4 linked regions of the Homo sapiens genome follow. The protein of the gene in region 4 interacts with the protein of the main gene of each other region in a pairwise test. Each region holds a gene or a part of one and is shown on either strand. Other genes may lie near its edges.

The links. Proteins that work in one complex are often made in the same cells at the same time.
Region 1: the proteins of WAC (region 4) and BACH1 interact in a two-hybrid assay, tested with the Homo sapiens proteins (one large-scale study listed by BioGRID and IntAct).
Region 2: the proteins of WAC (region 4) and DYDC1 interact in binary tests that used the Homo sapiens proteins (3 or more experiments, as listed by UniProt).
Region 3: the proteins of WAC (region 4) and KLC3 interact in binary tests that used the Homo sapiens proteins (3 or more experiments, as listed by UniProt).

What each region holds. Positions count from the first base shown.
Region 1 is NC_000021.9:29,304,673-29,309,870, reverse strand, and holds part of BACH1 (transcription regulator protein BACH1), read right to left. Parts: intron 4,668-5,198; exon of another isoform or gene 4,549-4,667; intron 1-4,548. UniProt on the Homo sapiens protein: Transcriptional regulator that acts as a repressor or activator, depending on the context. Binds to NF-E2 DNA binding sites. Plays important roles in coordinating transcription activation and repression by MAFK.
Region 2 is NC_000010.11:80,345,807-80,351,004, forward strand, and holds part of DYDC1 (DPY30 domain-containing protein 1), read right to left. Parts: intron 1-5,198. UniProt on the Homo sapiens protein: Functions as part of axonemal radial spoke complexes that play an important part in the motility of sperm and cilia. Plays a crucial role during acrosome biogenesis.
Region 3 is NC_000019.10:45,343,001-45,348,198, reverse strand, and holds part of KLC3 (kinesin light chain 3), read right to left. Parts: intron 2,666-5,198; 5' UTR 2,658-2,665; coding exon 2,400-2,657; intron 1,656-2,399; coding exon 1,425-1,655; intron 753-1,424; coding exon 683-752; intron 259-682; coding exon 39-258; intron 1-38. UniProt on the Homo sapiens protein: Kinesin is a microtubule-associated force-producing protein that may play a role in organelle transport. Plays a role during spermiogenesis in the development of the sperm tail midpiece and in the normal function of spermatozoa.
Region 4 is NC_000010.11:28,539,002-28,544,199, reverse strand, and holds part of WAC (WW domain-containing adapter protein with coiled-coil), read right to left. Parts: intron 1-5,198.

The sequences.
Region 1 (5,198 bases), on a different chromosome or scaffold from region 4:
CTGAAAAATATGAAGTGTTAAACACACAGAATTATTAGGGACAACAGGAAATCAAGTTTTAGGTTATTTTAAGGCTACCAGCAGCTGTGGATAATCAGATTAACGCTCTACTGATATCATCAACCATGTGATCTTCTGTAAATTACCTGGCTTAACACTTCCTATAATAAAAATTCAGTTAAGCTTAATAAGGATCTCAAGATAAAATGAAAATATTAAAATTGCACAAGTCTGCCCAAAATAATGGCTAATTTCACAGACCTAAAGAATTTCCAATTAAAAAAGCACATTCATCCAGGATGACCCGCTTCTGTTACAGATAAGGAAACTAAAGGCTTGAGAAGGGCAATAATTTAAAGACTGAAAAAGTCTCTGCTCCCAGGTCCAAATATTACATTTCAATTCATGTTACATGACTCAAGTGGTATGTGGGGGAAGAATAGGTAAAACTGAGGAGGGATGGAAGAACAAGGAGTTCAAGAAATACCCCAAGTATCCTGTGTGTGATGAGAAGGAACACTATTACACAAACAGATTAAATGGGCATTTGTGGAACAACAAATTTCCCCTTATTAATCAATATTTGGTGAATCTTTCTTTTTTTTTTTTTTTTGAGACAGAGTCTCACTCTGTCACCCAGGCTGGAGTGCAGTGGCACAATCTTGGCTCACTGTAACACCTGTCCCCCAGGTTCAAGCAATTCTCATGCCTCAGCCTCCCAAGTAGCTGGGATTGCAGGCGAGCATCACCACGCCCAGATAATTTTCATATTTTTAGTAGAGACAGGGTTTCACCATGTTGGCCAGGCTGGTCTCGAACTCCTGACCTCAGGTGATCTGCCTGCCTCGCCCTCCCATAGTGCTGGGATTACAGGCATGAGCCACCACACCCGGGTCTGGTGAATTAATTTCTAAATAACACTCACTAGATCATATAACCAATCTCATGCATCACTGAAAGGAACCTGACACTAAACTGTGCTCAACTTAAATCATCAAGGTCTATAGTTATACATACTACATATGGACAACTAGAAGAAGAGAACACTAGGAAGTATTTCACTACAAGTTACTTTCAATACAGAGGATTAAGCATCCATGTTCTATTTTCATAATGAAATAAAGATTCTTCATATGCCATCTTGTTTTTTAAACTGTAAAAATTACAACCATAATTCATATTCTTTAGGAGGCGAAAGCCCTAAAACTAGTTGATGGCCAAAATGACCCCCTGCAGGTTTAAGAGTTGACACACATAGTATGCATAGTAACCGAAAAGATAAAATAAACAAAAAAAGTGCTCTTCAAATTCCTAACTATACACCAACTCACAATAAAATTTGAGTCAAAAAGGGGGGTGAGGGTGGAGGGAGGTGCTTAAGAGTATAAAAAAGAATGTTAACAATTTTAATTAAATAAAACAGAAGTTACCGTAGGGCAATCAGTATATCATATGAATCACAAATTTGAAACTGTTTTATTCAAGTAGAGATACTAAACTGAAATGTCTTATTTAAAAACAACCTAATCCACTAATCCCTAACAGCCACCGTAGGGCCACAGTTTCTCAATATACATAGCTAAAACTAAAAACATAAGTCTATTTTTTACTATTTAACTTGGGAGTCAAAATAATCATTTCTAAAATGAGGATTTCCAAGCTACAGATTTGCACCAGTGATCTCAGTAACTACTTTTCATTATATCATAACCACAAGATTCAGCCAAATAAGGAACAATTTGCAGCCTATAAATAAAGCTGAAATATAGCTCAGTTTAAATAGCATCTGAGGAACTACTGAGTAGGGAAATACTATTGCATTTATCTGAGACAAAAATTATATTGGTAGTACAAGTCTTTCTAAATTCTATCCAAAAAACTAATACCAGTTCAGAAGCCTACTCTGGCCATTTATCACAGTCTATTTGTTACTCTCAAAAAGAAACAACCATTGAGCAATTCTCATTTTGTAAATTTACAACACTCAAGTGTTTAGGATTTACATTATTTGTCTGCCTTTCACAGCACAGAAAGCACCCAGACCTGCGATTGAGAAGGAACAAGAATGAAATACAAAAGTGCTTTTACACAGTGATCATACTTGTAACAACATACACAGGTGTCCCCCTTATCTACAGGGGATACATTCCAAGAACCCCAGTGGATACCTGAAACTGCAGATAGTAACAAACCCTATATATATACTATGCTTTTTCATCAAGCACAGTAAGAGATTAACAATAATAAAATACAACAATTATAACCATATACTGTAATAAAAGTTATGTGAATGTGATGTTTGTCTCTTTCTCAAAATATCTATTGTATTTAATATTTTTGGACTTCATCTGACCACAGGTAACAAACTGCTGAAAGTAAAACAGTGGGTGGGGATCCTACTGTATTTCAAAATTGCTAAGAGAGTAGATTTAAAGGTTCTCACCACACACACACACACACACAAAGGTAAGTGAGGTAATGGACATGTTAATTAGCTTGATTTAATCTTTCTACAATGTACACATACAGCAAAACAGAAAAGTTAGGAGTACTACAAGAATACTGTATAAACTTAAGGTGGCATTAATTTTAAAGTCTGAAAAGAATGACGAATAAGCTAACTACGGGACAGCTTTCCCTTCGAGGAGGGGAATGAGTGTGTAGAAAAGGGAAGATGTTCCTGTTTGTACTCCTGATTCAAGAATTTGCATTCTAAAGAATCCTGACCCATCTAGCCAATGAACTAACAATTCTATCTGAGCCAGGCTGGCCTCAGCACTCAGTGCAAGCCATAGAGACCACAGGTGGGTGTGCACTATGGACTGAGGGACAGAGTAGTCCTCTTAGTATACACATAATCAGAAACTACAAGATATAATTATATGTTCTCCTCTCCCTGAAAGGAATAAGACAATGGCAGGGAACTTTTGAAATGTTTAAAGCATTGAAAAAAAAAATTATTTCTTCTATATATATTTATTGACAAAATTGGCATTTTCAATTTTTAAATAATTTTTAAATAAACCATTGATTTGATTTGATTGTAAAAGTGCTACTTGATCATAGAAGGAAATGGCATATAAGAGGAAAAAAAGTCACCTAAAATTCCAAATCCAAAGGCAAGCACATTTTCTTTTTCTCCTCCGAAGTTTGTATCTAAGTGTAGTGGTGGCAGAACTAGTAGACAAGGATGTCACTGTTAACTGCACAACACCATTCACCCCCTCACTTTCTAACCAAACCCTGACTGTGCTCACGTATCTACTCTCAACCCGAGGCCATCAACTTCCAAGGAAGTAGACCCCAGCCACAACCTAAGATGAATCACGATCCATTTATGCCAATCACAGCGGTACTATTCCCCTTGACCTTGACTCATTTAGGCACTGGCTTGTGTGCAATGCTGACCTATGAAGAGAGGAGAGAGGGACAAGGTAGCATCTGCTATGAGGCTTTAGGGAAAAATTTTTCTCACTGATAGCAACAACCTAGGAAAAAAAAAAAAAAAGTGTGTCTTCTTCCAGGAAACTTAAGTCATATTTTCTTGTGACACTTGAACTTGTGGCAGCCATCTTGCAACCATAAGAGGAACTTGCCAAGGACAAAACAAGGACGTTGCCTGCATCTTCAACCTTTTTCCATTGACTGGATTTTTAAATACACACACACACACACACACACACACACACACACACACACACTCTTCCTGACCCAACTTCTCCCTACTAAAATCTATTTCTCTCTCCTCTTATTCACAGCTAAGCTTCTCAAATTGAGTTGATACAAGTTGTTTCCTCCACTAACCTATGCATTCATCACTAAACATCCCTAAGGCTTTCTTGATTTCCCAAAACTTAGGCTTTTAATAGTCTGTGGTTCCACAGCACATTTTACATGTTGCTACTATAGCATGCTATGGGAATAGTTTGCCTGTCTATTAGACTGTAACTTCTGAAAAGTTCATTATTGCCAATATCTGGAAAAGTTCCTGGCTTATAAAAGCCTAAACATTTGTTTCATAAGTTAAATGTAAACCAAATGCCTAACATGTAGGAATGCCACAAATATTGACATGAATTTAGCAACCCTACTGTCCACATACACTGAAAGTTAAGTATGCGTTCATGTGAGTTGGGGGAGAACAGCAGCAGGAACAGGGAGAAAAGAGAACACAGTGCCTTAGCCTTGAAACTTAAAAACACAGTTTTTCCTCACTCTTCAGAGATTAGAGAGCTGTTCCAAGCTAATTCAACAAAAAAGAAGAGGCTGTTTCCACACTGGCATCTGAGAAGCAGTGGTAGGATAGCTCTCTAGAATCTCAGCTCCTCTGCTATTTGTGACCACTGTTGCCAACCTGCTCAAAGAAGAAAAGGTGGCCCAGCCTTTCTGGGGTCTGGAAAAAGACAAACTAGTCCAAAGACAGGAGGCCCTCAGAGACAAAATATACTTTTTAGAAATCTAAAAAAAAATACCTATAGTTTGAATAGCACTTGTGACAGTCTTTTACCACAAAGAGACAACGAAGTAGGGAAAGTTAATCGTAATTACATGCTCATCCCCAAGCAGCATTTCCTTTGACTTCTCTGGATGACAACTGAAACTGAAGGCATGCCAGCAAAGAATCCGAGTGAGCTGGGCAAAATGCTCTCTACTTCAACAGTCTTTTGCTAATGTGAAAGAAAAAAAAAAAAACAAGATTACAAAAGCCAAAAGCTTTTTTTTTTCTTACCTCTTTTAACCTGAATTATGACTCTTACCTAGGGGAGTACCCAAGGCCAGGCTGAGATACACCTCAGAAAAACAGTTGATAAAGAGACATCAGGTACACTGGAAATTGAAGAGGCCTGGGCCAAGATCAGATAACCACTGTACATTTTTTAAAATAATATTTAAATATAAAATACACATTAATGAAATTACAACCTAATAAATTTATTCAATCTTTTATAGCCACATATTTTATAACAAAACTGTCTGATGGATGAGCAACTGCACTAATTTAGCTGACTTCTGAAAGACGCTGGCACACTTTAGAAAATGAATAAGGCAATAAGCATGTGAAGATATCAGTAAAGAGGAAGTTGGGTGGATAGGTCGCCCTATTTCTTCAATAGGACCCTCAGGAGTTCACCTCCTTAGGACAAAAACACCTCCCTAGGGTCCTGGAGGCAGACAAATCAATAAAAAGAAGAGATAAC
Region 2 (5,198 bases), about 52 Mb from region 4:
ATATGTGATACATATATGTGAGATATATATATACAAGATATACATGAGAAATACATCTTACGTTTTTTCAAGACAGGGTCTTGCTCTGTCACCCAGGTGGGAGTGCAGTGGCACTGCCTCAACCTCCAGGGCTCAATTAATCCTCCCACCTCAGCTTCCTGAGTAGCTGGGACCACAGGTGCATGCCATCATCATCATGCCTGGATAATTTATACATTTTTTCTAGAGATGAGGTCTCCCTATGTTGCCCAAGCTGGTCTCGAACTCTGGACCTCAAGTGATCCTCAGGCCTCGGCCTCCCAAAGTACTGGGATTACAGGTGTGAGCCACTGTGATCAGCTCACAATTTCTTTATCCAGTCATCCACTGACAGACATTTATGTTGTTTCCAAATCTTGGCTATTGTAAATAATGCTGCAATGGACATGGGAGTGCAAGTAGTCTCTATAAGGTGCTGGTTTCATTTCCTTTGAATATATACTGAGAAGAGGAATTACTGGGTCATATGGTAGCTTTTAATTTTTTGAAATACACCCATACCATTTTGCATAATGGCTGCGCCAATTTGTATTCCCATCAACAGTGTAGAAGAGTTCACTTTTCTCCACACCCTCACCAATGTGTGTCTCTTCCCTTTCTTTTTTTTTTTTTTTTTTTTTTTTTTTCTTTTTTGAGACGGAGTCTCACTCTGTCACCCAGGCTGGAGTGCAGTGGCGCGATCTCAGCTCACTGCAAGCTCTACCTCCTGGGTTCACACCATTCTCCTGTCTCAGCCTCCTGAGTAGCTGGGACTACAGGCGCCCGCCACCACGCCCGGCTAATTTTTTGTATTTTTAGTAGAGACGGGGTTTCACCATGTTAGCTAGGATGGTCTCAATCTCCTGACTTTGTGATCTGCCCGCCTCAGCCTCCCGAAGTGCTGGGATTACAGGTGTGAGCCACTGCCCCCGGCCATGTCTCTTCCCTTTCTGATAACAGCCATCTTAGGCTGGTCACGGTGGCTCATGCCTGTAATCCTAACACTTTGGGAGGCCGAGGTGGGTGGATCACCTGAGGTCAGGAGTTCAAGACCAGCCTGGCCAACATGGCGAAACCCCGTCTCTACTAAAAATACAAAAAAAAAATTAGCCAGGTGTGGTGGCGGGTGCCTGTAATCCCAGCTACTCAGGAGGCTGAGGCAGGAGAATCGCTTGAACCCAGGGAGCAGAGGTTGGAGTGAGCTAAGATCACGCCACTTCACTCCAGCCTGGGTGAAAGAGCGAGACTCTGTGTCCGAAAAAGAAAAAAAAAAAGCAGCCATCCTAATAGGGGCGAGGTGGTATCTCATAGTGGTTTTGATTTGCACTTCCCTGATGACTAGCGGTGTTGAACATTACTTGTCACTTTTGATAATATACCTGTTGGCCACTTTTATATCTTCCTTGGAGAAATGTCTATTTAGGTCCTTTGCCCATTTTTTAATTGGGATCCTTTTTTTTTTTTTTTTTTTTTTTTTTTTTGCTATTGAGTTTGCATTCCTTATATATTTTGGAGATTAACTCCTTATCAGACCTTATCAGATATATGGTTCACAAATATCTTCTCCCAATCCATAGGCTGCCTTTTTGTTTTGCTGATTGTTTGCTGTGCAAGAGCATTTTAGTTTGACCTAGTCCCATTTGTTTAGGTTTGCTTTTATTGCCTGTGCTTTTGGTGTCATACCCAAAAAATTATTGCCAAGACCAATGTCAAGGAGCTTTTTCTACATTATGTTTTCTTCCGGGAGTTTTACAGTTTCAGGTCTTCCATTTAGGTCTTTAATCTATTTTGAACTGATTTTTGTGTATGGTGGAAGACAAGGATCCAGTTTCATTCTTTTGCATGTGGATATCCAGTTGTCCCAACACCGTTCATTGAAGAGACTATCCTTTTCCCTTTGTGTTTTCTTGCAGGGCTTGTCAAAAATTAGTTGACCGTATATACTTGGGCTTATTCCTGGGTTCTCTATTCTGTTCCACTGGTCTATGTGTCTGTTTTTATGCCAATACCATACTGTTGTAATTACTATGGCTTTGTAATATAATTCTGGATCAAGTAATTTGATAGTTCCAACTTCGTTTTTCTTTCTTAGGATTGCTTTGGCTATTCAGGGTCTTTTGTACTTCCATACAAATTTTAGAATTGGGTTTTTCTGTTTCTGTGAAGAATGCCATTGGAATTTTGATAGGGATTGAGATGAATCTGCAGATTACTTTAGGTAGTATAGACATTTTAACAATACTAACTCTTCTGATATATGAACACAAGATATCTTTCCATTTATTTGTGTCTTCCTCAATTTTTTGCATTAGTGTTTTACAGTTTTCAAGGTATAGATGTTTCACCTCCTTGGTTACATTTATTCCTACGTATATTATTCTTTTTGAAGCTATTATAAATAAGATTGTTTTCTTGGTTTCTTTTTCGAGTAAGTTATTGGTAAACAGGATTTAAATTTTTCTTAATGAGAAGAAATACTCCCAACCACTATTATCAAACATTAAATGGCTTTGGAAATTAGCTTTGGCTGCAGACTTGATAATGTTTCTTAATTCATTTTAAAATTACATGGCAAAACATCACTCATATGTAAAACTTACACTGCAGTAAACTCACTTCAACAACAGCTCATGTTGTTTGAATCACAAGTAACGTAAAGCTGCTTTATACACGTCCAGTGCTGTCAAAACTAGAACAGGATATTAGATCTCCGTTCCCAAACAAATTGTCAGTGGATGTATTTTCCAACCTCGAACTACAATTCCAGAGTGTTTGTAAGGCCTCAACGTAAGTGCAAAGGAAATTTCCATATTCTGAAATCCATTTAACTATGCAATTAAGAAGCTTCCATCAACCTTCAGTTGGAAGTGGCTATTCTACAAAGTAATGCATGCTAAAAGGCAAACAGCAAGAGAAAAACAAAATTCTAGAAATACCTTCTAAGGAATGAATATGCTTAATTTAAATTATACACACATAGACTGATAGCAACTTTTGACAGTAACTATGTAAAAAGACATTTTCAAGGATGAAATGCATAAAACCTCATTACAGATCAGCATTAGCAGATAAACTTTTTTTTTTTGAGGCGGAGTCTCGCTCTGTCGCCCAGGCTGGACTGCAGTGGCGCGATCTCGGCTCACTGCAAGCTCCGCCTCCTGGGTTCGCGCCATTCTTCCCCCTCAGTCTCCTGAGTAGCTGGGACTACAGGAGCCCACCACCACGCCCGGCTAATTTTTTGTATTTTTAGTAGAGACGGGGTTTCACCGCGTTCGCCAGGATGGTCTCGATCTCCTGACCCTGTGATCCGCCCGCCTCGGCCTCCCAAAGTGCTGGGATTACAGGCGTGAGCCACCGCGCCCGGCCCGCAGATAAATATTTTAAAATAGATTTTGATGATAGACCACACTAACGCTGAACTTCAACCAAGTGAAATGTTATCTTTTAAAAACTTTTTTAAATTCTCAATAGTAAACCTATCTAATAAAAAATTTATATTCAGTGATTATTATTTGAATTTCATCAATAAAACATTTGCAAAAATTCATTTTCTCTCTTGTTATTCCTACATAATATGCCATAATGCCTTCATAATATCATCAAATTTGCCTCTTGGCCTGTAAAGCATAAAATGTCTACTATCTGACAATGCATTCTAAAATAATAAATTTTTACAAGTAAAGATATAATAAAGTGCTTGATATTTTATTTGCAAAAGCTTTTAAAGGTAATTTCTTAGTATTCCTATATTATCACTACTAAGATAAAAGTGATGGGGTAGGTAGCTGAAACGCAGAAACAGTTTCAATCAACTTTCAGACATTGGTAGAGGAAGTTAAATAACTCCAATCTCTCAACAATAATGCAAAGTGTATTTGTTAAATAACAGTCAGATTGATCAAAACAACCAGCTTCTTGACATTTTCAAGAAACTTCCAAAACCTAATCCCCTTCCTCACACATGAGCAAAACCACTGAAAGCCATTCAAAACAAATAAACAAAAAAGCTCTTACTTCAAAACTAAGCTCTTACATAGAAAATGGCAATAAAAATACTTCCCTGTTCACAAAAAACTAGGCTTGTGGAGAGTGCCTAAAATATCAAGGAATTTCAAGTCAGTGGTACTGACTATGAGGACAACTGCTTTTGCAACCAGCAAGGAAATAACCAGAGTTCCCAACCTCCAGCTTACATGACTCAGAAGGCACCCAGAGGCCTCTCTGTTTTTCTTCATCTCAGCCACACTCTCTCAAGCCTTTCTCTGTTGATCGATCTCTCCTATCTATTTCTGCACACCAATCCACTCCGCTAACTGGCCATAACATCTCCTGTATAATATTATTTTCTCTTCCGCCCTACTACAATACTTAGGATTCAATGCACAGTGGATTAGTTCATACCGGTCAACATAATATGGCTAGAGAAACTTGTTATTGCTAGTATTGCCAAATTATGCATAAGTAGGATAAAGTAGTCGAGCCGAAGAGAGTTATGTATCTCCCACTTACGATGTAATTGCCTAGGGGAAGGAGAACCTCTGGGAATTCTCTTATTTTTGATAGACAGGAACAGATACCAGCTATAGGAGCTGTAAGAGGAAGGATGGCTCCTCATCCACAGTTGTGGCTGCTGCAGGAAGCACCTGGCCTGTTTGGATGACAGTTGACACCCAACTCAACACTTTTTAACCTCCCTTCAAGAATAAGCCAATGACTGAAAATGAAGACTCAGAAGGAGTAGAGTTTTCAACAGCCCTATCCTTCTAAGGGGCCTGCAGTTTTCTACCTCAATATCAGGGATAGGAGGTTAGTCAGAGAAGCTATTTGCCAGGTCTATATTTTTCTTTCTATCCACATACTCAAATAATAGGCTTCTTTCCCCTTTTTAAATATGTAAATTTGAGTCAAGACTCTGGGGTTAAGTATTATCTGGTAGAACTATGGAAGTGGCTTAAATTTAGCTTAGAAGCTCTCTATAAATTAAATCAGTCCAGAAGCCATTCTGGAACTTTCCTCTCTCCAGCTTGTACTCCATGACCCATCCCTTCAACAATTCCCTTACCAATATCTTCAGCTCCCTAATCATGCTACCCCAATCCTGCTTCAATTAAAAGGTCTGCCTGCTCCACTTCTTCACTCAGACATCTGGGCCCAAGTGAAGAGAATCACATCATCACATA
Region 3 (5,198 bases), on a different chromosome or scaffold from region 4:
CGTTCCTGCCCCCAGCCATGGCTGGCCGCAGTGCTCACCGGTACACCAGCGCCAGGATGTTGAGCATGGTGGCCACGTCAGGGTGGCAGTGGCCCGAGCTGCGCTCCAGGTCCTCCAAGGCCTGGCGGCACAGAGGCACCGCCACCTCATAGCGGCCCTGCCCCGCGTACTGGATCACGAGGTTATGCAGGGTCCGAAGGCGGGCAGGGATCTCATAGCCACCCTGCTGAGCAGCTGCTGCTCCTGCGGCCTCAGGACCTAGGTGGGGTGGGGTGGGCTCTGGGTCACTGCAAGCCTCCTGCCCCTCCAGCCTCGCATGAGGGGACACGTGCCTCAGAACTGCCGGACTGCCTAACTGGCCCCTGGGACTATGGGCCCCCACGCTAACTTCTGAGATAGGAGTCACTAGCATCTAACCAGCTGGTGGGATGCATCCTGGCCTCGGGACAGGAACACGGCAGCCCACCTGCCCTGTGGGATGTGAATACGGGGCCTGCCAGGCTCATAGCGGCTACCCTGTCTTTGTGGCTCCCAGCCTCACCTGCACTGTCACATTCAGGGTCCTCCTCACCCTGCCCTCACCTCCCCATCCCCTGGCTCAGAGATTTTGGGGTCCTGCAGCTCAGAGCCCCCTCCCCACCCTGGCCTGCCATCCTCTGTGGCATGTACTCCCAACACCCACCTTTCCTCTCCTCCTCCTCGCTGGGGAACAGGGAGGCCAGGCTGTCTCGGCGAGGCGGGGACTCAGACTGCTGCAGAGACAGGAAAGTGGGGGGCCGGGGTGGTGGGGGCTTGTTTCAGAGACCGGGGCCCTGGCTCTATCTCAGGTTTTTGTTTTTTTGTTTTTTTTTTTTTTTTGAGACGGAGTTTCGCTTGTTGCACAGGCTGGAGTGCAATGGTGCGATCTTGGCTCACAGCAACCTCCACCTCCTGGGTTCAAGCCATTCTCCTGCCTCAGCTTCCGGAGTAGCTGGGATTACAGGCATGTGCCACCACACCCGGCTAATTTTGTATTTTTAGTAGAGACGGGGTTTCTCCATGTTGGTCATGCTGGTCTTGAAATCCGGACCTCAGGTGATCTGCTCGCCTCGGCCTCCCAAAGTGTTGGGATTACAGGCGTGAGCCACCGCACCCAGCCTATCTCAAGGTTTGAGGGAGGTGGTGGTCACGAGCGTCAGAGGCCCCCTGGGGGTCTGGCGAGGCTCGGGGGCTTCGTGGAGTAGCTAGTGGGGGCGTCTGTGGAAGTTCTGGTGGGTCTGGGGGCTCTGTGGAGGGTTGGGGGACTGTGGCATTCTAAGGAGGGTCTGGGGGACTGTGGGATTCTAAGGAGGATCTTGGGGACTGTGGGATTCTAAGGAGGGTCTGGGGGACTGTGGGGCTCTATGAAGGGCCCAGCACCCCCCGCCTCGCCCTGCCCGTGGCACCTGGCTCTCCGCCGGTGGGTCGTACTGTCGCAGCTGCCCCAGGAACTCCAGGTGGCGCTTCTCCTCCTCCAGCTGGGCCACGGACTCCTCGCTGGCCCGAAGCCGCCGCTGCGTCTCCTCCAGTTCCTCCCGCAGCCACACGTTCTCCTGGGCCAGCCGCCGGGCCTGCGAGCGCAGCCGCTGCTTCTCTGCCTCCAGTGCACCCACATGTGCCGACAGGGCCAGCAGCACCTGCCCGGGGTGGGGGTCCCAAGTCGAGGTTGGTTCCTGCCCTGCCAGACGGCCCCTGACCCAGCCCAGGCCTCGAGTCAGGCCGTAGCACCCCACTACTATGCACGACACCCCCAGATTCTGCAGAGACTCTGCCAACATGGCCCCAGTGCCCTCAGAGGCTCCCAGGGGCCCCTCTGATTTTACCCCCAAACTTGCCCTAGGACCCACAGTTTACTGAAGAATGCCATCTGGTTCAGGGGTCCCTGTCACACACAAGGACCCCCTAAAGCTGCCAAGGGACTCCATCTCTGACCTGGAGCCTCCCCTTCCCAGGCCTGGTTCCCCTAGGCCTCCCCCTGCCCCGGATGTGCCTCTCTGCCATACTTTTTTCTGTTGTTTTTTGGGACAGTCTCTCTCTGTCACCCAGACTGGAGTGGAATGGCACGATCTCCACTCACTGCAACCTCCGCCTCCCAGGTTCAAGCGATTCTCATGCCTCAGCCTCCTGAGTAGCCGGGATTACAGGAGCCCTCATGCCCAGCTACTTTTTGTATTTTTAGTAGAGATGGGGTTTTCCCATGTTGGCCAGGCTGGTCTTGAACTCCTGACCTCAAGTGATCTGCCCACCTCAGCCTCCCAAAGTGTGCCCCTCTGCAATAGTGAACCCTCTCCCAGTCCCCTACATACCTGTCCCCCTCATGCCTGGCCCTCCCTCCGCCCTCAGCTGACCTTCCCCCAGCTCCCCACCTGGCCCCCTCATACCTGGGCCTCGCCCAGCCCCAGCTCGATGGCCTCCAGCGAGTGGCTCACCACCTGCTGCTTTTCCTCCAGCATCTCCAAGCCGGCTGCCGGGCCCTGTCCCGCCAGGGCCTCCGCCAGGTGCCCAGCCAGGCCATGGTGCTCTGCCCGCAGCGCCTCCAGCCCCTGGACCACTTGCCGCGTCTGCCGCACCAGCTCCTCAGGGCTCAGGCGCTCTGGGCCCAGCCCTGCACTTCCAGGAGCCGCTACCTGCACAGACATTGCTGCTCCTGGGGAGCAATGGTGAGGGGTTTGGGGAATCATTGCCCGGGCCAGTCAGTTGGCCCCCAGCCTCTATTCCCATAATGGCCATCAGGACCCCTAACTTCTCCCCATCCTGGCTCTTCCCTGCTCCACCCATCCTGGCCAGCCCTCTGCCTCCACACCCTCTCCATCCCAGTCTCCACACCCATCCCAGCCAGCTCTCATCTGGAACAGTCTTGTCTACCTTCGTCTGTCCTCCCAACCCAGGGTTCTGCCCTGAGGACAGTTCCCAAATCCTATGTGTAATTAACCAAGAGAAAGCAAACAGCTAGCCTGGGGTCCCCCATCTGCCCTCAGCTCACCTGGCCAGCCTTCCCCACCCCAAGGCCCTTGGATCCCCTGGCCCAGAGCTCCCGGTTGGCCGTGTGACCTGGGACCAGAGGCACCCTCCTCTGCCGGCAGAGTGAGGCGGGGCGTGTGGAGGCGGCAGCCTCTGCGTGAGCTCATTCTTAGGGTGTTTTTGTCGGGAACCAGTCAGACCACTGGGGGTGGGTGGGGTGGGAGGAGAGGGCCGAGGGGCCAGGGCCCCCAGAAGCCCAGGAGGCCTCTAGGTTGGGGGGAATGAGGATGGGGCCATGTGTTGGCTCCCAGGCAACAGATGGACCCTGGGGGAACAGGGGCTCCGCCCTCCTCCATCGGACAAGCTTAGCCAGCCCAGGGCCTGTCGGGACACACGTGTGATAGGTGTGGTCCAGGTATGTCACACTGGCCATGTGACAGCTGAGAGTCTGAAGCCCAGCTCATAGTGGGTGGGGGCCCCCCTCTATGGGACTTCATGTGGTTGTATGTGGGTGACAAGGTCACAGAAACTTAGCTGGTGGTGCCTCTGGGGTCCTCATATACACACAAACACACTCCTCAGAAACACCTCACACACCCGCACCCTCCCTTCTTAAAGACACAATGCAACATACACATTTTCCTCTCCGAAATACAATTTGACACACACACGCACTCTCCCTTCTCTCCAATACAACATGGGGCCAGGTGTAGTGGCTCACGCCTGTAATGCCAGCACTTTGGGAGGCCAAGGTGGGTAAATCACTTGAGGCCAAGAGTTCAAGACCAGCCTGGCCAACAGGGTGAAACCCTGTCTCTACTGGAAAAAAAAAAAAAAAAATAGCAGAGCATGGTGGCGCATGCCTGTAGTCCCAGCTACTTGGGAGGCTGAGGCAGGAGAATTGCTTGAACCCGGGAGGCGGAGGTTGCAGTGAGCCAAGGTCGCACCACTGCAATCCAGCCTGGGCAACAGAGTGAGACTTCATTTAAAAAAAAAAAAAAAAAAGACGGTACACACACACACCCTCCCAGAAATACAGTTACACACACACACACACACACACACTCCCTCATTAGAAACACAATGTAGGCCGGGTGCGGTGGCTCACACCTGTACTCCGAGCACTTTGGGATTTTGGCTGAGGCAGGAGGATCACTTGAGCCCAGGAGTTCAAGACCAGCCTGGGAAACATAGTGAGACCCCATCCCTACAAAAATAAAAATAAAAAAATTAGCTGGGTGTGGTGATGGTGTACCTGGAGGCTGAGGTAGAAGGATTGCTTGAACCCAGGAGGTTGAAGCTGCAGTGAGCCATGATAGTGCCACTGCACTCAGCCTGGGTGAAAGAGTAAGACCCAGTCAAAAAAGAAAGAAAGAAAGGACAGCATAATATACATTCTCCTCTTAGAACACGCACTCACTTTCTCCTATTAAATATACAACTCAGTAAAAACATTTACATTTTCCTTTTAGAAATACAACCTAAGACAACACACTGACTCAGGCACACACATATACTATTCTTTCAAAAACAATCTGTATACACTCCCAACACACAGGTATATTCTCTTAGAAATAAAAACCAAGCCTGGGCGCGGTGGCTCACGCCTGTAATCCCAGCACTTTGGGAGGCCGAGGTGGGTGGATCAGTTGAGGTCAGGAGTTTGAGACTGGCCTGGCCAACATGGTGAAACCCCGGCTCTACTAAAAATACAAAATTAGCCAGGCATGGTGGTATGCGCCTGTAGTCCCCAGCTACTCATGAGGCTGAGGCATGAGAATTGCTTGAACCTGAGAGGCGGAGGTTGCAGTGAGCCAAGATCACGCCACCACACTCCAGCCTGGGTGACAAGAGCAAAACTCCGTGTCAAAAAGTGATAATATTATTTAAAAAAAAGAAAGAAAAGCCAACCCACGCAGAAACTAACTCTGTCTCTCCCACTCCCCAAATCACTCACATTCAGACCATCTCCTTGCACTTGACCGTGACACTCGCTGTCCCCCGAACTCACATGGCTCCCAAGCAGCCAACTCCCCACAATGTGCCCAACGCACCTCCAGATGCACACACTCCCAAGATTCACTATGGATCCCTCGCCAGTTTCCCTACTTCCTCTCCCTCCCACTCCAGGCCTGGCCAGCAGGGACTCCCACACCTACACGCCATGCACACACAAGTACTCAGATTCAGCTCCACTGTCGGAACAGAGAGCTGTGAAT
Region 4 (5,198 bases):
ACAAAAAATCTGGAAAGAAGTGGGCTCAGTGACTCATGCCTATAATCCCAGCACTTTGGGAGGCTGAGGCGAATGGATCACATGAGGCCAAGAGTTCAAGACCAGCCTGGCCAACATGACAAAACCCTGTCTCTACTAAAAATACAAAAATTAGCTGGGCGTGGCAGTGCGCACCTGTAATCCCAGCTATTTGGGTGGCGGGAAAATCACTTGACCTGCAGAGGCGAGCTTGCTGTGAGCAAAGATTGCGCCACTGCACTCCAGCCTGGGATGACAGAGTAAGACCCTGCCTCAAACAACAAGTACAACAACAGCAACAACAAAAAACAAAACAAAGGAAACCAATTCTGGAAAGATTACAGAATACTAATTATTTTATGGCATGAGAATGTTTTCTATGAAAACTAGTGATTAACTCTTAAATGAGAAGATACAAGGTGACTTTCTTTTTCCCCTTTTCTCTGCATTTCCTAATTTTTCTACAATGAGCGTGTACTAACAAAATTTTAGTACAAGAAGCACTATATAGCTCAAGGACCCATTAACTCCAATCTTGCTTTGCATAAATATGGCATTTCAGAAGTCAAGCATACAAAATACTTTCCTTAGAGAAATAAAAATATATGTAAAAGCCAGACAGGCCAACAGGGCGATCACATTCCTCAGAACCGCATTGTCCAATTCAATAACCATCATTCACATGTGGCAATTAAACACATGAAATGTGGCTTGTCCAAACTGAAATGTGCTGTAAATGTTAAATAGACACTAGGTTTCAAAGATCTTGTACCAAAAAGGGAATGTAAAGTATGTCATTATAGTTTTTAAGGTATCAATTACAAGTTGAAATATTTTTGATATATTAGGTCAAATAAAATATACTAAAATTGAATCATTTTTAGTTTTTAAGCAAAGCTACTAGAAAAGTACACATATGGTTTGCATTTGTGGCCAACATATTTCCACTGGACGGTGCTGCTATAGAACCTTGTTACTCTAGTGAAGTGTAGGTATCACCCGAGATCTTGTTAAAAGGCAGATCTTTGGGACCCACCCCAGAATTACTGACTATAGTATCTCCAGGTGCTTAGTATACACATTCAAGTTTGAGGAATGCTAATCCAAAATACTATAATTTCATTCCCCTTAAATTATAACAATCCAAATTTTTTTTATCTATCCATTTAGTTAAATGCTATAAAGTTTCAGGCACTATTCAAGGTAACAGGAATACAAGGTGGATAAAAACATTAAAACTCTCACTTCCTCTTCTGGTGGAGCTTATATTCCACAAAAGGCAAGCAAACAAAAACTAAAATACAGTCAGTTCTGCTATAACATTTGTTTCCAAATAGACAAATTTGTTTGAAGGCTACTGATCTATCAGAAACCAGCAAATTTCCCACTTATGTGTATTTTCACCTGTGAGAAACACTAGCTACATCAAGCTGCACAGGAATTTACAAGGCAGACACAGCTCAAACATCTAATAGCTATCTTAGTTCATCATGAATTATGAGTCAGGTCCATCCACATTTGATGTTACAAGTTTTTGTCTCGTATCAGGTATCTTCCATCCATCACTTTACAGTAATTCATGAACTGCAACCCTTCCAATGAGTGGCCACTTTCACAAGAAGTCAGGTTTTGGTCAAGGTAAAGTGCCATTTATTGCGGTGTTATTCTTTAACCATTTTATACGTGTAAAACTAAGTTACAATTTTTATTAGGTTCCTATCTTTTTAAAATGTGTCACTGACAATGTTTTTGGTTACTGTGCTCCTAACTCCATTTTCCCCATAAATTGGTCTGGTGCAATGTTGCACAGCACCGTGACTTTCAGAAATGCCCATGTCATGTTATAGCAGAATGACTATAAGTAAATCATAACAGGTCACCTTCATACAAGGAAGGAACACGCAGGGGCAAGGAAAGACAATGATGAGAATGACTGTTTCAGAGTGTTCAGCAAGGGCAGAGAAGGCCCTGTGAGAGGGTGACACTTAAGCAGACACATTACTGAAGTGAGTGAGCACAGTAGGAGAAACATAAAGGCACATAATGTGCAGAGCCCCTGAGACAGGAACAAACTTCTGCCTGCAGGGCCAGTATGGAGAGAGTAGCACAAACAAGGGGAAGATAGTAGAAGAGGCTGAAAAAATACCCAGACACCAGATTACACAGGATCTATTATAAGATTTGCTAAGAAACAGGGAGTCACTGGAGGGCCGTGAGCTTGAGAGAGATGTGAGGTGACTGGCATTTTAACTGGATCACTCTGGCTACTGTGTGGGGAAACAATCATACAAAGCAAAATGGACTCGGGAACACTAGGGGGCTCTTGCAGAATTCAAGCTAAGAAAAGGTGGTAGCCAGAACTAAAATGATAAAATAGTGAGAATTAGTTATACTTGGAGTATAATTTGAAGGCAGAGATAAAATTTTATGTGAAGAGACTTCCTTTCCAGTTTCAACAACAGTAGGCTAAATACTTTATAATTTCATCAGTACAACAGGAATAATACTGATCAGCCTATTTCAAAGAGCTACTGTGGAGTCAGATGAGAAACAATATAGAAACCCTTTGAAAATTATAAAGCATCATACAAATCCTGAAAAGGACTGTTCATAGAATATATTTGCAAGCCCCAAATAACCAAATAACTGATTTTGCCAGGGGGTGGAGGTTGCAATGAGGTGAGATCGAGATCGTGCCACTGCACTCCAGCCTAGGTACAGAGTGAGACTGTCTTAAAAAAAAAAAAAAAAAAAAAAAAAACAAAACACACACACACACAACCCCACAAAAATTGGTTTTGTAATTATCAAATTGACAATGAGTTATATCTAGTGCCTGGTATAGCATCCCAAATGCCCAGCTTATTTCCATCTTCACTCTTTCCAGCATCATAACAAAATGATGCACTACCCCCCAAACAATTCTGCACAACAGAATAAGGTAACAGATGCTTAATAGACACAAATTAGAATATATAAATTTTCTGTGAATTACAGACCAAAACCCCAAGTATGTTACACCAAAAATTTTAAATACTTCCTGCACAACTAGAAAACAGTTCAATTAAGACTGTCTTAAGGATCTAAGGATCTAAGTGAACTCATTCCAAAATACTGATTGTAAAATAGAAATACCATTAAATTATAAACAATACATAATAACCATCTCTCTAAAAATATAAAAAGTTAAAATGTGATTATGAGAAGCGTAAGACAAATGACTTGGTACTAGTGTTCAAATTTAACAATTTACATGCACAGATGCTTACATCACAGACACTGTTTTCTAAAATTAAAAAAAAAACAATGAAGAGTTGAAACATTAAGACTGCTACTCCTTCAATCTTATTCCACTTCTCTTGAAACAGAGTATGTTTCCTGTGTTTTCTAAATTGACCAATGGAAATCCAATGCAAACATTTCTGCATAGTATTATCACAAAGCATAAATCAATGAAAAAAGGTCATGTGTCACTATTTTTACTAGACAAAAAATACTTAACATCAGTCAAACGTATTATTAAAATCCAAACGTTAGTGTATTATATTCTATGCAATGTTTCCACTTCGTAAACAAGTCTTTAAATATGAGGGATTAAGAGAAAATGGACTTTTCCTAGTGAAATCTGTGTCATGCTTCCATGTCAAAACTTATTTTTGAAAATAAAACACTGATGTGATAACTGCGCCTAGAACTACACAAATACATCTTATCAAGGTACTATAATTTGGCAAGTTGTAACCACTGAGGGAAGAAGGGTGAAGATATTAGCAGGATAAAAGCAAAAATGCCTTCAAACTAATTCATGCCATAGTAACCACCACCAAATAAGCTTTCAATACCCAAGTGTTTAATCTCTGACAGCATACAAGTTACCGAAGTTAGAGAACTAGTTTCTAGACTGAGCTGTTGCTCTCTGTTCAATTTTATTAAATTTTCCCTCATTTGTAAAACTGGAAATAAGGATACTATCTGTTGTCTTCCAAAGTTAACATGAGTATCAAAAGCGACTGTTAATTTGTATACTTACTTTCTATACAACATTTCTAATGTTAGTAATTTGTAACATTACTAACTCAAAGCATATTTCAAAGTCATCTAAACAACGGTAAGACCATGTTGCTCAACTGCCAGTCTATTATTCAATGTGAAAGACTCAAACGTTACTAAATTATATTAAAAAAAGACATTATCACCAAATAATCCCTACTAATTCCTTCAAAATGTTAATAGTAACTTTTATTTGAAAGTTAGGGAGATGAAAATACATTTCCAAATTTTTCCAAAGATATAGCTAAATGACAAAATAAAAACTTCACTATGGGCCAGGCGCGGTGACTCACGCCTGTAATCCTAGCACTTTGGGAGGCCGAGGCAGGTGGATCACTTGAGAGCAGGAGATTGAGACCAGCCTGGCCAACTTGGTGAAACCCTATTTCTACTAAAAATACAAAAATTAGCCGGGCATGATGGCGTATGTTTGTAATCCCAGCTACTTGGGACATTAAGGCAGAAGGATCGCTTGAACTCAGGAGGCAGAGGTTACAGCGAGCCAGGATCACACCACTGCACTCCAGCCTGGGCAACTCTGTCTCCAGAAAAAAAAAAACCAAAAAACAAACCCTAACGATTGTACCTTAAGGTTTTTGCTTTTGGTTACTTTAAACAAGATTGTATGTTTTCAGACAGATCACAGACTATATAAAAATAACTCATTTCACAAAAAAATATTTTAATTATACTCTCACATAACCTATCTTAAATTTACAATAGACATTATTTCCTTTAATAAATCCTAATGGATAAAATCTCTAACTCTAAACTATACACGCTATGTTACAGCAAGTCTTATTTTAACTAGCAAGGTTTTTGGGAATAAAAACCTTCACAATCCCTGATTTCTCACTTTTTATATTGTATCTGCAAGTCCTTTCATACATTACTTCTGAACGAGCATTTTTCAATGAAATCCAAGATGCTAAGAAATCTAGTAATTACTGAAAAATGCTGTGATGCCAGTAAAGCCTAATCCTAAGGTAAACAAACGCACAAGTTCCACATTTAACTTGCTTTGTAAAATGCAAGTTACAAATCATAGCATATAGGTTATTATTAGTAAAGAAAATCATTAAATCTTAAAATGAAAAACTGGGAAATTTGAATTCAGTAGTTCAATGCAT